Linked DNA regions of Homo sapiens: region 2 is linked to region 1. A link means that fine-mapping ties the variant in region 1 to the expression of a gene that starts in the linked region. Tissue or cell type: nucleus accumbens. Region 1 holds a variant in brackets; the other region holds the start of a gene. All regions are shown on one strand. Distances are from middle to middle.

The links.
Region 2: it holds the start of SFRP1, and the variant in region 1 is fine-mapped to the expression of SFRP1 in nucleus accumbens (GTEx, PIP above 0.99).

What each region holds. Positions count from the first base shown.
Region 1 is chr8:41,340,103-41,345,468 of GRCh38, reverse strand. No RefSeq gene overlaps it. Among named protein-coding and RNA genes, the nearest start is that of SFRP1, 33 kb to the right of the region's middle. The variant A/C (reference allele first, on the strand shown) is at 2,507.
Region 2 is chr8:41,306,427-41,311,792 of GRCh38, reverse strand. SFRP1 (secreted frizzled related protein 1) reads left to right here and starts at 2,320. Exons shown (of 3, transcript NM_003012.5): 1 at 2,320-3,177. The coding sequence starts at 2,634. RefSeq lists enhancers at 153-680, 2,600-3,370, 3,371-4,142.

The DNA of each region.
Region 1 (5,366 bases):
ATTTAGAAAGAAAGGTGATTTTCTTCCCCCATTGCCACATCCCCCAAGATGGACTCTTCCTTGAGAGCTGAAAAGAGGCTCCACTCACAGCTCAGGAGAAAAAGACCCAGTTCCCTCTTGGACCACGTTCATGTTGGCTGCCAGGATGGCGTGTTAGAGGACTTCTGCCACCTAAGTCACGTGGGGAAAAGTGCGCTCTGTTCTGGGGGTGAGATGGAGGCAGGAACACCCATTACAGGCCTGGCTGGGACTGGGCCTACCTGGTGGTTGCAGATTTCTTTCTTTATTGAGCAATGACTGAATTTAAGAGTCCACACTCCGGCTTATATTCTCTTACCTATAAAATAGGAAAAAAGAGACTGGGCATGGTGGCTCATGCCTGTAATCCCAGCACTTTGGGAGGCTGAAGCGGGCAGATAACCTGAGGTTAGGAGTTTGAGACCAGCCTGGCCAACATGGTGAAACCCCGTCTCTACTAATAATACAAAAATTAGCCAGATGTGGTGGCACACACCTGTAATCCCAGCTACTTGGGAGGGTGAGGCAGGAGAATCGCTTGAACCCAGGAGGTGGAGGTTGCAGTGAACCAAGATTGTGCCATTGCACTCCAGCCTGGGTGACAAGAGGGAAACTCTGTCTCAAAAAAAAAAAAAAAAAAAAAAAAAAAGGAAAAAAGAGGGTGGTTTCTCTCTTTGTACAATCCAACACTACAGGGATGGCTGTGAAATTCTTTGGACTCAAAAAGGAAAAAGACAGGAAGAGGCCAAAATCCTAAGGAAGGATAAATGAGGAAACAATATAGAGAAAAGTCTGGCAGGGAAAAGGCAGGAAAGGAAGCAGATGGAAAAAGAGGGAAAGAAAGGAGAAGAAGAGAGGAAGAAAGTGAGGCAGGGGAGAAAGCAGACAGAAAGGGCAGAGGCAAGAATGATTCTGGTGACACAGAGGCCAGGCTGTAGGATGGACACTCTCCAGTGCATCTGTGGGCGAGAGAGATTTTGATTTGAACTTTTTCAGGGACCTGTTTTCTCAGATGTCCTGGGGACACGATTCTAATACCTTGGAAAACACCAATGTGTGTTCTTTGGTGGTTCTGGGTCCTGGGACTGGAAGGAGGGAAAGGAAACCCTCCCAGAAGCAGGAAGTACTGGATCCCGGCTTTGGGCTTGTGTTGGATGGGGAGGAAACAGGCCCTCATAGAGAGGATCTGTAAAAGTCTAAAGTGGGATAAAGCATTTAGCATATATGAAGTCATGGATGTAAATTTTAAAACATTATAATTTTATTTGTTATAGGTCAATGTATGAAGAAAATCAGTATGGCGTCTGGGTGTAGTGGCTCACACCTGTAATGCCAGCACTGTGGGAGGCTGAGGTGGGAGGATTGCTTGAGGCCAGGAGTTCAAGACCAGTCTGGGCAACATGTTACGAACATAACGTTTGTGGAGACCCTGTCTCTACAAAATAAATGAATACATAAATACATTAAAAATTAAAAAAAATTGAGCTGGGTGTGGTGGTGCACATCTGTTGTCCCAGCTACTTGGCAGGCTGAGGTGGGAGGATTCAGCCCAGGAGTTTGAGGCTGTAGTGAGCTGCGATGGTGCCAATGCACTCCAGCCTGGGGGACAGAGCAAGACCCTGTCTCTAAAAAAAACCCAATTACTGTGGAAACAATTGAGCTATGAAATACCAAACCACTGCCTACCCCCAGCTCCCACCTTCAAAGCACACCAGCATCTCTCTGTGCGAGGACCCCTGTGAGCCGGGAGGGGTCCTCTGGCTTGGGTGCTGGCACCCGGTCTTAGAGCAGCTTCAAATTCTCAACCCCAAATGGAGACATGCAGCTTCGCACATGGTCTGACGGTGGGCTGGAGTATTTAAAGTTAGACCATTCTGGGAAATATCACTGATGTACAGACTTCCCAGGCAGGCCTCAATGATTCAGCCATGGACCTGCTTTGCCCTCACGGGGAGGAGGTCCCTGACAGCGTGGAGGTCCCTGTCCACCCACAGGGGAGGAGGCCTCTGCGTCCTGGCAGGAAATAGCCTTAGGTCTGTGTCTAGGAGTGGAAGTCAGGCTCTGCCCAAGGGATGACCCATTTCCTTTTCCTTTATTTCTCCAAGTGGAGAATCCCCAGGACCCTGAAGGGGAGCGCCCTTCCGGAGGGAGCCACATGTCCCGCCTTCCCCTTGGCGGCGGGCATGGAGCTGCCTTCTTCCCACATGAGAGCAGGGAAGGAAAAGGAAAGCAGGGCCGCTGGCGGGGCTGAACTCAGGAACCGCTTGCCTCTCCCAGCCCGGCCCCCACTTCCCTATCCCTCACCACCCCCATCCGCTGGTAACGCAGGGTGTAATCTCGCTTCTAACACAGAATTACAGAAAACGAGGGGGAAAAAGCCCCGAAAAGAATAATTAATTTCTGCTTCCTCATGCAAATCCTTCGGCCAGTCATCCGAAGTTCAGAGCAGGACCAATTCAGTTCCTTGTGCGAATTCCAAGCTGAAGGC[A/C]TTTAGAAAAGGAGAGAGCGAGAGGAGAGAAATTGAATGGATTTACTTTTCTAAGAACCAGAATTAACAAAGGTTCCATTTTCCGTGGTTATGGGTCTGGCTAGACAGCCCTCACTGACAAGCTCTCCAAACACATGTGCTGGCCTGCTGAAAAGGCCTCAGTGTTGACTGACAGATAATTGAAGTGACAAATTGTTTCATTGTATTTGGCAGAGAGAGTGCTGTATTAGATAATTATGGGGAACAGAGGAGCTCTGGGGTCTCAGGTCACAAGACATGCCTGACCCTATTTTCTGAAAACTCTGAATGGAGTTCTGGGTCCCCGAGGACCTGAGTGTTAGGCTGGCTCTTTGTTGTTGTTGAGTTTTTTTCTTCCCCTTTCCCTCCTCCTCTGCCTCCATTGCCTGCCCTTCCCCCCCTTTTCCGATCTAATGATTAAGAGCTAAAGAATATAGAGACCTCCAGAGCCGAGGGAACGGGCCCTGCCCCCACCATGCCCGCCCCCACTCCAATTCCTCCCTTTTTAGGAAAACAACTTGTGAATTTTCTCCATGGTAGCCCGTTTGCAAACTCTTCTTCTTATCAGCTCCCCACAGTGGCCTGAAAGGAGGCAGCCGGGGACAAATGAGTGGCTTCAAAGGGTTGAGGGGTGAGGGTGTCCCCCTACCCCTCAGAGGGAGGGGAGCAGAGCTGCTTCTCCGCGTGGCCTGGTGAGGTGGGAAAATGGAAGACCCACAGTTAGTGGGTGGTGAAATAGGTCAGACCCCAGCTTGTGAAACTCTCCATCCAGGGCTCTTTTTCCCAAACCTGCTGGGATACAAATTTTTTAAGATCAGGAGTGCAAAATGCAAATCACAATATCCCCCTCTCTCTTCCTGGCCCTCTTTACAGCTGTATAATCCTACAAGAAACTGGAAGCAGCTTCACACACACCGTCTTTAGCCTCATGCGTGATCGGGCCTGGGCACAGGGTGGGGGCAGATTTCCCTGTGCCACACAGCAAGGAAGGGGCCAGTCGCCGCCCCGCTGTGTCCTCCACCCATTTCCCAGATGCCCCCTACAGAGGTGGACAGGGATTCTTTAGGGGAGAGAGAGACCCTCAGAGCAGAGACATTCCCGGATGGTTCAGGAAGGAGCCCGCGACAGGCTGGAGGAAAACCTACTTACTCCTGCAGGGGACGAGTGAATGGCTTGGTGCCTCTGCTCTTAGCACCAGTGGGGGAGGGGCAGTCTTCAGATTGGGGATTTAGGATCTTCACTATAAACCCCATTTGCTCTCTACAGGGCTTTGATGCTCTGGAAGATTTACTTTGCTTTTAAACAGAAAGGGTTTTGGAATTATTCAAACTCTCAATGTTCATTTTTTTTTTTTAAGTTGCGTTTTCACTTTTCCCTCCATGCCTTTTTCTCCTTTCTTTTGGTTACCTTTTATTCTTAATTATAAGTCCAGAGAAGACCCCCCAGGAAGCAGTTTGATGTTTGGTTTCCAATTCTGTTATCTTAAAAAAAATAAAAATAAATAAAGCACACGGGGGGAGCACCGGGACATTTCTGAGTATGTGACACAGCTGAGTTCCATAGATTTTCTGTTTTTTTTTTTTTTTTTTTTTTTTTTTTTGAGACAGTCTTGCTCTTGTCACTGAGGCTGGAGTGCAGTGGCGTGATCTTGGCTCACCACAACCTCCCCCTCCCGGGCTTGAGCAATTCTCCTGCCTCAGCCTCCTGAGTAGCTGGGATTACAGGTGCCTGCCACCATTCCTGGTTAATTTTTGTATTTTTTGTTTATTTATTTATTTATTTTTTAGTAGAGATGGGGTTTCACCATGTTGGCCAGGCTAGTCTCGAACTCCTGACCTCAGGTGATCAGCCTGCCTTGGCCTCCCAAAGTGCTGGGATTACAGGCATGAGCCACCCCCTCTTGGGACTTGGCCACGATCATGTGGGAAGTCCAGGCCATCTGGTGAAGCCACATGGAGGTGCTTTGGATAACAGCACAGCTGAGCTGCTGACAGTCAATGTCAACCATCAGCCATGTGCATGATTCATCTTGGAGGTCCAGTCACATTCAGACTCTAGGTGATCCATATCCGGGCTCCATTTATCTGAATATAGCCCATGAGAGACCCTAAACGAGAACTGCCTGGCTGACTTAGTCAACATATACATGAACCATAGTATATTGTTGTCTTAAACGACTTAAGTTTTGGAGTGGTTTGATACACAGCAATAGTTAACTAGAGCAAACCACCAGGACTTTATCCCGTCCTTGGGATGGTGCTGAAAAGAAAAGGGGTTCTCCAGGAGAGGAAGGAGAAATTGGCACACAATCCACTCAGAGCAGACAAAGCAAAGACCCAGGAGAAGATGGTGCAGAAAGCCCTGGTGCAGGAAGTGCCACTGGGCCCCACGTGCTTTGAAGTACTAGGGAAAAAGCTTCATTTTTCTCTTCTTTTTACTAAAGGATGCTTTTCCTTATGAAATAGATCTGAAGTATTCACCATGGCAGGCACCCGTCATCCCTCCATCATTTGTGGAGTTGAGTATTAACAGATTTGAAGGTTAGGACAGTGGAGGCTGAGGATGTCTTTATGAACAGAGGACTCTGCTGGAAGGTTCACATCCAGAAGCTGGAAGGGCTGGTAGAAACCCAAGGTCACCAGGAAGACAAGCCGGGAACCCGGCTGACTCTGTCCTTGGGCTTTAGTACCTGGCCTGGCAGAGAGCTGGATGCAAGAGCAAGTGAAATCCAACAACATCAAAGGCCTTTGTCATGGGGTTTTAATTTTTCTGGCCCAATGGGCTTATTATTTTCTATTTTCTTTTCCTGCCACTCCATCCCATCACATCCTCCGGCCTGGGT
Region 2 (5,366 bases), 34 kb after region 1:
TTCCCAGCAGGGGTCAGTAAAGCAGTAGGACCACTAGGGGTGAGTGGGGGAGGTGGTGACTGGAGGTGATCAAAGTCTACTCGGAGTGACCAGACATAGGCGAGGTCTTCCCCTGAATGGATTTGTGAGATTTACTCCTGACTTGGGACTTCCAGGGCAGTCACCTGGACGAATTTCCAGCATTTAACCGTGGACAGACACAAGTCCTCCTGCCATTCGGGAAAACTGAAAACGTGAGTGAGCGGTCAGCTAAGCCTGGGTTCAGAGGTGAGAGGATGTTATCTGCAAACATCCATCTTTGCAGTGAGCAAACAGACGCATTTGGCTTGAGGTGGAGGGCCTGGCCCTAGGAGACAAAAAGACCCCCTACCAAACAGCATTTTTCTCTAAATGCCCCTTGAATTGAGACACAGTTGCCGGGTCTCCTGCGGTCTTATTCTCTGTGAGGAATGTCTTCCTCAGCTCCACAGGCCGGCCTCACCAATTGTCTTGGGATTAACCCTTGGCCATCCCGATCTTGCTCTCTCTTCTCTGTGTTTTCCTTCCAGCCTCCATGTCACCTTTTGAGTGTCAAGGCATCTTCCATTGGCCACGAAATGACAGAGAAGTCATCCATCTGCAGAAGCCTCCTGTGTGCACCGTGGAATCACCGTGTCTGTACGGGCACGAATGCTTTAAGAAAACAGCCCTGCTTCTTCACAAACTCTAGTCATTTCACTTGGAATCTGTCCATCAAGAAATTAGGTTTGCAGAGTCCAAAGCAAGCTCCCTAGAGCTTTACAAACAAGCTGGCGGGCAAGGCAGCGCGCCCTATAGTGTCTCTGTGGAGCGCTAAGATCTGTGACCCCTTTGCCACATGGGGTGTGCGCTCAGACTGGGCTATGAATATATCAGCCTCTCTCCACCCGCACTTAGGGACAGAAGATATGGAGACTCCAGGAACTTCATGAACTATTTGCTGTGGTCTTCTGTCCCGGGATAGTCCGGGTCTCACTCCCAGCTCTCCAGAGCTTAACCCTCCCTCTCAGGGGAATGTTTGAAACCTACGAAGAATTCTCAGGAATTCGAGGTAGAAGGTGGCAGAGAGACTTCTGTTCCTGGGGGCCGAGCTGTTGTGCTGATACCGTCCTCTTGGCGTCTGCCCTAGTGGGGACCCTTGATTTTAACTTGAAGTTCCTGGACTGGGTCTAACCTTAGCATGTGTGCCTGAGTGATGGACTTGGTATTTACACCAGCCACGCTGATAAGTGCACATGTGTTTTTAATGTTTTGGCTTTCCACACCACAAACACACAGATGTGCTGTCGCCCGGGCTAGGACTTGAGTAGGGTTTTTCTATTTAAATATATATTATATATTTAAAAAAGTGTCCTCCCAGAGCTAATACCGTTGCTAGCAGCTCTTCCTGCCGCCACACCGGGCAAAGTCCACCCACTGCCCCAGTGTTGAGGGCCACCATGGGCGGCCCCACCTGGAGAGGTGCTGCTCACAGCAAACAGCTCCAACTGCGCCTTCGCCTCGCCTTCCAGGGAGCCCAGCCAGGCCCACTGGGTATTTACAAGCAGACCTCCCTCGCTTCAGCCTTCCTGAACCCCTGTTAGTTGGGAAACCACCTGTCTGCACCGCAGCTAGAGAACCGAGGAGAGGAGCCGCTAGTCTAAAGGGCTGTTGGTTGAAATTAGGAAGCAGTGTAAAGAAAAAGAAAAAAAAAGTTTGGGAGGCCAAGGCAGGAGCATCACCTGAGGTCAGGAGTTCGAGACCAGCCTGGCTAACATGGTGAAACCCCGTCTCTACTAAAAATACAAAAAATTAGCGGGGGCATGGTGGCACGCGGCTGTAATCCCAGCTACTCGGGAGGCTGAGGCAGGAGAATCGCTTGAACCCGGGAGGCGGAGGTTGCAGTCAGCGGAGATAGCGCCATTGCACTCCAGCTTAGGCAACAAGAGCGAAACTGTCTCAAAAAAAAAAAGTCTTCATAATTTCATGGGTTTGCAAGTATGATCCAGGCTCCCCGCTTCTCTGCAAGCCAATGCGAGTTAATTACAGCGTCCGCCCTGGTCTCTCTCCACCCCACGCCGTGATCCATTCCCCTTCTTTTTCTCCCCTTGTCTCTTTCCTCCTCCCCCTTTTATTTATGTATTTTTGGTTTTGTTTTTTAAGGGGTGTTGAGCCGCGTCTGGTTCTAGTAAACCGAACCCGCTCGCGAGGGAGGCGATTGGCTCCCGCGCCGGTGACGGACGTGGTAACGAGTGCGGCTCGCCCCGCCGGGAGCTGATTGGCTGCGCGGGGCGGCTCCGAGGGCTCGGCCGTAGGAGCCCCGCGCACTCCAGCCCTGCAGCCTCCGGAGTCAGTGCCGCGCGCCCGCCGCCCCGCGCCTTCCTGCTCGCCGCACCTCCGGGAGCCGGGGCGCACCCAGCCCGCAGCGCCGCCTCCCCGCCCGCGCCGCCTCCGACCGCAGGCCGAGGGCCGCCACTGGCCGGGGGGACCGGGCAGCAGCTTGCGGCCGCGGAGCCGGGCAACGCTGGGGACTGCGCCTTTTGTCCCCGGAGGTCCCTGGAAGTTTGCGGCAGGACGCGCGCGGGGAGGCGGCGGAGGCAGCCCCGACGTCGCGGAGAACAGGGCGCAGAGCCGGCATGGGCATCGGGCGCAGCGAGGGGGGCCGCCGCGGGGCAGCCCTGGGCGTGCTGCTGGCGCTGGGCGCGGCGCTTCTGGCCGTGGGCTCGGCCAGCGAGTACGACTACGTGAGCTTCCAGTCGGACATCGGCCCGTACCAGAGCGGGCGCTTCTACACCAAGCCACCTCAGTGCGTGGACATCCCCGCGGACCTGCGGCTGTGCCACAACGTGGGCTACAAGAAGATGGTGCTGCCCAACCTGCTGGAGCACGAGACCATGGCGGAGGTGAAGCAGCAGGCCAGCAGCTGGGTGCCCCTGCTCAACAAGAACTGCCACGCCGGCACCCAGGTCTTCCTCTGCTCGCTCTTCGCGCCCGTCTGCCTGGACCGGCCCATCTACCCGTGTCGCTGGCTCTGCGAGGCCGTGCGCGACTCGTGCGAGCCGGTCATGCAGTTCTTCGGCTTCTACTGGCCCGAGATGCTTAAGTGTGACAAGTTCCCCGAGGGGGACGTCTGCATCGCCATGACGCCGCCCAATGCCACCGAAGCCTCCAAGCCCCAAGGTAAGGCTGCCTCCTCCCACGTGCGCGAGCCGCCCCCTCCATCCCCCGGCCGGAGCTGCAGGAGAACCCGCGCCACCCTACGCCCGCCCGCCGCTGGGTCCCGGTGCTGGGGACTGAGGGCCCGAGGTTGCTCGCATGCTGTGCACGTGATTCCTAAGCGCGTCTGGTCTGTCCCAGGTATCGCTCAGCGCCCCTCGCGACCCAGGTGCACGGCGGGGCTGGCCCGGGAGCGGCAGCTCTGCGCCTTGGCCTCGCAGGGACTCGCTGTGGTCCCCGGAGCCGCTCTTCCTGGGATCCAACTTCGCCTTTCCCATACCTGAAACAAAGCCTTGCGCTTTAAATAACAGGGGAGCTTCCCTCTCCTCTAGGAGGACTCCGAGTCCCTATCGAAGTTTTTAACCTCTGAGACGGGAGGAAAAAACAAAAACCCAAAGCGTAGAAAGTTCAGAAAGGCCGAGAGAATGCTTGGAGCAGCTTTTGTTTATTTTCATAGGTTCGACAAAGATTTAAAAAATAAAACCAAGCCCTTTCCTTCACTGGTCATTCAGTCAAGTAGCCTTGGGATTGCTGCAAAACTGGCTGAGAAAGTTTAGGAACCGTGGGGACTTCTGTTTCTCCACCCCTTCCAGGTACCAGCTCTGCCCTCGGAGGGCTGGGGGTGGAAAGTCTTTTCTCCCTCCCTCTAGCGTACCCCCTGCTTTTCTCATTTACACAAATCCTCAGCTCATTAGAAAGATAAAAATGTAATTAGCTCATTGTTCATCTCCTCCCGGGGAGAGCAGCTCTGCAAAATGCAGACTTTCCTAACAGCCTGAGGGACCGGCCCGAGGTTCCTCTCAAAACCCCCTTATGTTTAAAGAGCAATTCTTGAGGGGGAAGAAAAAAAAATCCTGGGAAGTCAAATAAAATGAAATAGATATAAAGATAAAATATACACATCACAGACCTGACTTCTATAGAAGTAAATTCAACCCAGAATTCTTTAGAAGCGAAGTTTAGGCTCTGAGGTGTGGAGAGGGTCAGGGATTGGGGAGCTGTACCCCAGCTGCGCTTAGCACAGACGCAGGCTTCCTGAGGGCTTTTTGAGGAGGGCCTTTAGGGTGGGGGAGAAAGACTGCCTACACTTAGCTCACCTTAAAGTGTCTTTAACCTCTGTTATTGATGCTAAAAGAGGGGAGTGCAGTCACCTGGCTCCTCAGAGTGAGGATTTGGGCAGGTGGGGGAAAGGGATACCCCAAATTTTAGATGCTTTTGCTTATTCTAGGGAGGGTGGAGATGGGTCCACAGTGACTGTCGTTGGATGGCTGGATGGGAACGGCACTGATTGCCCGCAGTGGCCAGGTCTGGGCACCGCTGCTCTCAGAGTCAACTCTGGTGTTGGGAGTGGAGTGAGGGTAGCGGATGCATCTGCACTTTGTGAGCGAGAACTGAGCAGTTACCTGGAGCAAACAAAGCGCCTTGTGTTCTGTTGGCTTGCACCCATCCCCTGCAGCCTGCGGGAATTTCCTTCTCCCCTTCCTCAGCCAGCGGGGATTAGCCCAGCCCTGCCCTGTGAGGCTGTGCCCAGCCCTGACCTGGAGTCCATTCCCAATGGCTTCCGATGGTCTCTTTCTGGGACCGTCTGCAGACATGAGTGGACACCTTAGGGGGCTCGGCTGCGGAAAAGGTGCTGCAGTCCACAGGGAACATGGGGGGATTGGACGGGTTGCCTGAAGAAGAGAGGAAAGAATCCCTCACCCCAGCCCCCAAAAGGCTGTGATGGGATGGGGAAACCCCATAATCGCTGTCTTCCGGACACCTTTTGCCCCTTGGCTGCAGTTCCACTGGTCGGCGCCCTTCTCAGCCTGGCTTGGAACCGTCCTCACTCACCTCCACTCCTCCCAGCAGCGCTCAGGTAGTCACCCTCCCAAGACAGGTCTTTGAGGAGCAAAGAGAAAAGTGGGGAGAGGGCCGGTCGGGAGTGGGGCTTGGGACTGGTTTTCCCCTCAGTGGTTTTGGTGGGGGGCTCTGCCCTGAGATGGCACACCACCCTCCCCAGGACTGCAATCCCTGGTGTAAGGGAGCCCCACGTGATTTCCTGCGAGGTCCCTGTGGAGGGGAGGGTGGGGCGTGTGTGTGTGTGTGTGTGTGTGTGTAGGTGTGTAGAGGGCAGGTCAAGACAAACCAGACTACTGATCCTCATAACCTTA